Regions from separate parts of the Homo sapiens genome. Here region 1 is linked to region 2. The links come from fine-mapping of genetic effects on gene expression. Tissue or cell type: subcutaneous fat. Region 2 holds a variant in brackets; the other region holds the start of a gene. All regions are shown on one strand. Distances are from middle to middle.

Region 1 (2,869 bases), 22 kb before region 2:
GTTAATCACGGTATTTCATTCCATGAAATCCATTAAGCTGCTGGCATTTGCATGGCTCTAAGTTTATTTTAAGAGGCTCATTCAAACATGGCCAGGAATATATTGGCCTCTTGAGAGTTTGCATGGCAAGGAGTTATACAGCAGGAAAAAGAAAAAAAACCCAATAATTATATTGATGCAAGATTCATCAGTATTTTAGAATATTGTCGTTTCAACATGTTAAATTGTTTCTGAGCACTGCTGATTTCAGCACTGTCCCTGGTCCACGTGACGCAAATGCCACCCTTTCCATATATTCTTCAGCAAAAATATATGAAAAGCCCGTCACTCCCTAAGAGGACCCTGATCCCTCTGGAGAGGAAAACTAAACTCTTTAAGAAGAAAACCAAACCCAACCTGAACTAATCGTCCAAGGAGTCCTGTTTGGTCCCACGAAAGGCAGATTTCCATCCACACCAGTGAGGGGCAAGTGTCCGGGTTCCAACTCGAAGCCAGGCGGGCCTGTGCGGGGGTGAGTCCTTTGCCACCCGGCGCCCCCCAGGCTCTACAAGCGTCTAGAGGTCGGAGTCGCAGGGCAGCGAGCTGTCGCAGGGGTGGGTGCTGCACGAGGGAGCGTCCTGGGACTCCCACCCCTCCCCGTCGAGGACGTCCACCGAGTTGGTGTAGGCCTTGGGCCGCGGCCGCGGCATGGGGAAGCCGACCTTGGGCTTGGGCTTGGGCTTGCGGTGCTGGGCAGGCGGCGGTCGGTGCTGGCCGTCGCTGTAGTACTTGATGGCGGGCGCCAGGTCGGGCTCGGGCCACTCCACTTGGATGGTGCTGACGCTGCTGCGGCGAGGCCCGGCGGAGGGTCCCTTGCGGCGGCGGCGACAACGCTCGTCGCACCAGGGCGCGAAGCTGAGCGCCAGCGAGAAGCCGCCCAGCAGCAGGAGGCAGCTGCCCAGGTAGCCCAGGACCAGGCTGTAGCTGACCTGCACCGTGACCGGGCTGGCCGGGGCGGGCAGCACGTCGCGGTCCCCCAAGAAGTGGTTGTACCAGGACACCGGGATGAGGCCGAGGAGGCCAGCGACGAAGAGCACGACGCCCGAGAGCCCTGCCAGCACGAAGTTGGGCTCGTCCTGCCAGCAGCGCACGCCCAGCGACGCCAGCAGAAGCCCCAGGACCGTGGCGGCCAGCGAGGTGACCATGAGTGCCCGCGCCACCAGCACGGGCTGGGCCTCGAAGTAGCCCCACTGGTCCGTCTGGCCGCACTCGCGCTCGCGGCTGCTCTGCTCGCGACACATGTCCCACAGGCCCTGGTACAACTCCACGTCCACTGGCTGGTTCAGGAAGCCCTTCACCAGCCGCCAGCCGGGCGCCAGGGTGCCGGTCAGGTTGAGCAGGAGCCCGCAGGGCGCCAACACCATGCCCAGCGTCATCACCACCGGCGTCCGCATCCCGGCCCGCCGCGCCGACGGCGCCCCTGCAGCCTGCCTTCCTTCTCCGCTGTCGCCTTCTCCGCCGTCGTCTTCTCCCTGCCGTGCCCCAGGCTCCGGGGACCCGAAGTCAGCGCGGACGCCCCGGGCTCCGGGTCGGGCTCCTGAGCCCTGATCGCTCCAGGGACGCTCTTTGTCTCCTGCACGGGGACCGTCCCCACTTAGGCTAGTTCCCTCCTGGCGTCCCGGCCGCTCCGCCCTCCTACTGGCCCTAATCGAAACCAGCCCGCGGGCGGGTCTGACCGAAACCGCGGGTCCGGGCGCGGGCGCCCAGGGGCGGCTGCCGCGGCCAAACCTGGCCCGGGAGGGAGGGACCCGAGGTGAGCGCAGGAAGCGGCGGGGCCACCTCGCCCGCGGCAGGTGAGATGGGGATCCGAGCGGCGGGGACACCCCACCTTGCAGCCGGGCGGCTGGGCCACGCCTGGCCTGGACTGCTCACGGCCGGAGCAAAGGTCGCCCCGCCCCTGGGTCCTCGCGCCGCCCCGCCGGGCCAGGCGGGCGGTGGGCGGGGAGGGAAAGAGGCGGCGCTGGCGGGACGCGGTGGCTGCGCAGCTTCCCTGCTGCTCAGCGGATCTCGGTTCCTAGAATTTGTTTCCGGTCCCTGCCCGTCGACCCTGCGCTTATAGCTTAGCCCTTTACTCCCAGAGGGTTCCAGATCGCCCCCTGGTTTGCTCTGCAACTTGCAGCCACTCGCAGAGAAGTGGGCGGTGCCGAGCGCTCCCGGGGATTGGAGGTGCGCTGGGTGAGTGTGCAGAAGCCCACCCAGTCCAGGAGCGTGTCCCAGAACGTTGCACCGGATTATTTCCTTAATAAAGGCTCCACACTCTGGATTAAATTCGTCTCTAAAGAATCTGTGCCAGTGTACTTCTGGGCAGAAGGGTTACACAAGGATTTTACTTTCCTTTTTCAGCCTTGTGAGACTTTCAAGGGGACTAGAAAGAGGGACCAGTGTTCCCGGATGTCCTGCTTAGCGTTTTTTGCAGGTTTATTTAATTTTACAGTGTACTGTGGCCTTTCTCGTCTGTAGGTTATTTTACAACTCTATAAATTATAGAAAGCCTGTAGTATTGCAAATGACTTTTGCCAACATCAAGGCTAATGAGTTCGTCCCAGTGGAATGATTATTGTCCAATGGATACTGACCAGTATGGCATTGATTTGTAAATTCATTTTAGCATTCCTGTTTGTCTGTATATGTGTGTCCTTTTGTTCTTTGCTTTTTTTTTTTCCTTTTTCTTTTATTTATTTATTTATTTATTTATTTATTTATTTATTTTAAACAGGGTTGGGGAGTTTCGCTGTGTTGCCCAGGCTGGTTGCAAACTCCTGGGCTCAGGTGAGTCTCCCGCCTCAGCCTCTGGAGTAGCTAGGACTGCAGGCAAGTGGCCAGCTTCTTT
Region 2 (2,907 bases):
ATGGCCACATATGGATTGTGTGTCTCCTGGGTCCCTCTTGTGGGGATCTTGGACAGCCCCATTGGGCACAACCAATGATCATTCCTGGGTTGGCCTCTTCAACTTCTATCCACTCTGACTCCCTGTAGGTGGGGATTACTGCTGCCACCTCCCCTCCTCCCAAGATGGTCTTCTCAGATGGAGTCTCCTTCTTTCTTTCTTTGGCCCAGATCAAGGCCATCTGGCCCATGGAAGTCATAGCCGCTGTGATGCCCCTGGTGTGGTGCTTCTAGCTCCTCCTAGAGCCCACTCCTCCCTCTGCCTCCAGGGAAGTTCAGCCACAGCTTCTCGCTTTCAGCCTTTTTATAAAACACAAGTGAGGCTGGGCATGGTGGCTTACACCTATAATCCCAGCATTTTGGGAGGATGAGGTGGGAGGATCGCTTGAGGCCGGGAGTTTGAGACCAGCCTGGGCAACATGGCAAGATCCCCTCTCTAAAAACTTTTTTTTAATTAGTCAGGCATGGTGGTGCACACCTGTGGTCCTTGTTCCTCAGGAAACTGAGGTAGGAGGATTGACTGAGCCCAGAAGTTCAAGGCTGCGGTGAGCTATGATCATGCCACTGCACTCCAGCCTGGGTGACACAGTGACACCCTGTCTCTAAAAAACAAAGCAAAACAAAAACCATGAATGAGACACCAGTCCATGCATACTCTCCACACTTCAAGTTTTCCAACATTTTCTAATATTTTCTGGTTTCTCTCTGATCTGAAGCAGGTGGGTTGCAGAAGGGCACCCCTTTCCTTACCTGCCTCCTCCCATTTGGGTGAACTGCATGGCACCCCAGCAGCCCTCCACAAGGACACTCTCCCTGGCAGCCTCTCTAGCACATCTTATTAATATTCTCTTTTATATCTTGAGAGGAGTAATTGGCTCATTCGGCAATGGCGGCAAATGGGTTTGGGGATAATTCTGCAAGTCTTGTGGAAATGGCCAAAAGCCTGCCTGAAAACGTGGTGGTGCTTGACACTTCTTGTTTTCAGTTTTCGGTCCTTGGTCCAAACTCTGCTAACACTTAATCTGTGGATTAGGAGTTTACAAATGTCCTTTTTACAAATGTTGAAACTAAGACTCAGAAAGATTAAATAAGTTGCCCAAGTTTGCATGACTAATAAATGGTAAAATGGAATTCTGCTTACTGCTGTCTCGTGATTTCCCAGAATCCAGTGAGTGTTTACAAAACC[C/T]GGGATAGAGGTTAGGAGAGGTTGCTTGAGTTTCTGACTCAGCAGTTTTGTTGCTATTCATGTAATGGAAAACCATATTCTAAAACACAACTTTTCAAGCACAACCGATCTGTTGTATGGTCCTGAGTTTAGCTAAAATTTTATTTCTTGTAAAAACTGAGGCTATGTGGACTGTAGGTGAGTCCTTTTTGGTTCCCAGAGTTTAGAACAAAGAGTCAGGAGGCTGACCCCACAATCTCCAAAGTCCATTTTTCCATCTGAACAGATAAATAGGGTCCTTTAAGGTGGTGGAAAATAAGTACCTTTTTAACATCTCTCTAGAATAAGAAACACAAGGATATTGTATAACAGCTTAGGACTTTTGTTTCCCTTTGACTTCTCACATTGCTTTTGTGTAATGTTGGCATTCAAAGTTTCTTTATTTTTTTGATTAACATCCGTGTTTTTTCCTAGGGCTGCTGTTGCAGAGAAACACAGAGTGGCTTAGAACAACAGAAATGCATTACCCTGCAGTTCTGCAGGCTATGGTCTGAAATCAAGGTGTCAGCAGGGCCGCGCTTCCTCTGAGCCTCTAACGGAGGATCCTTCCTTGTGTCTTCCAGCTTCTTTTGGCCTTAGGCAATTTTTGGTTTGCAGCGGCGTTAACTCCAATCTCTGCCTCCTTCATTACGTGGCCTTTTCCTTAAGTGTCTGGGTCCACATTTCCCTGTTCTTAGAAGAACACCAGTGATATCTGACTAAGGACCCACCACTCCAGTCTGACTTCATCTTCACTTAGCTAATTGCATCTGCAAGGACACTATTTCCAAGTCAAGTCACATTCAGTGGTACTGGGAGTTGGAACTTCAGCATACCTTTCTAGGGGGCCACAATTCAACCCATCACAACTCTCAGTTACATATTTCCATCCCCATGGAAACAGGAGCTGCAAAGGGCATTTTTGTGAAGAAGCTAAGGTTGTCTTTGAAGCCTGCCTTCTTTTCCCAAGGGCAGAGGAAAACTTCTGCCACTCAGCATCCTACATTCTCAAAGCCCTCCATTTGGGACACAAGGAATTTTATACATTCACACATCCAATGTACATTGGTTTGGCTGTGTCCCCACTCAAATCTCATCTTGAATTGTAGCTCCCATAATTCCCATGTGTTGTGGGAAGAACCCAGTGGGAGATAATTGAATCATGGGAGTGGTTTCTCCTATACTGTTCTTGTGGTAGTGAGTAAGTCTATCAATATCTTTTGGTTTTTTAAGGAAACCCCTTTCACTTGGTCCTCTTTCTCTCTTGTTTGCCTCTATGTAAGACGAGCCTTTCCCTTTCCGCCATGATTGTGAGGCCTCCCCAGCTGCATGAAATTGTGAGTCCATTAAACCTCTTTTTCTTTATAAATTGTTCATTCTCGGGTATGTCTTTATCAGCAGTGTGAAAGCAGACTAATACATACATTGCTAGCCCTAAATTATTTTATGGTTATTCCTCCTAGAATCTTTCCCTTTTAAATGTTGGTAATTTGAGCTGAAGGAAAAGAATTTCTGGTTAAAGCAGAGACAGAGAAGGGGAGAAGGAAGCTGGCCTCGAGGAAGCTTCTTTGGATATGAATATGCCATAAGAACAAATCAGAAACACGGAGCCAATGACTTCAGCTCTCTGTACACTCCTTCTTACAGAACCAGGAAAGCAGACCC

Alleles and levels. Alleles are on the strand shown, and positions count from the first base shown. SD is a standard deviation of normalised expression in the study named.
For the expression in subcutaneous fat of the gene that starts at base 1,895 in region 1, allele C in region 2 goes with a higher level than allele T (moderate effect, 0.50 SD a copy in GTEx).

The links. PIP is the estimated chance that this variant, and not a neighbour inherited with it, causes the effect.
Region 1: it holds the start of CLDN23, and the variant in region 2 is fine-mapped to the expression of CLDN23 in subcutaneous fat (GTEx, PIP above 0.99).

What each region holds. Positions count from the first base shown.
Region 1 is chr8:8,700,963-8,703,831 of GRCh38, reverse strand. It overlaps CLDN23 (claudin 23), which reads right to left and starts at 1,895. Exons shown (of 1, transcript NM_194284.3): 1 at 1-1,895. The coding sequence starts at 1,433. The coding sequence ends at 555. RefSeq lists an enhancer at 1,102-2,069 and a silencer at 1,543-2,162.
Region 2 is chr8:8,678,713-8,681,619 of GRCh38, reverse strand. No RefSeq gene overlaps it. Among named protein-coding and RNA genes, the nearest start is that of CLDN23, 22 kb to the left of the region's middle. The variant C/T (reference allele first, on the strand shown) is at 1,225.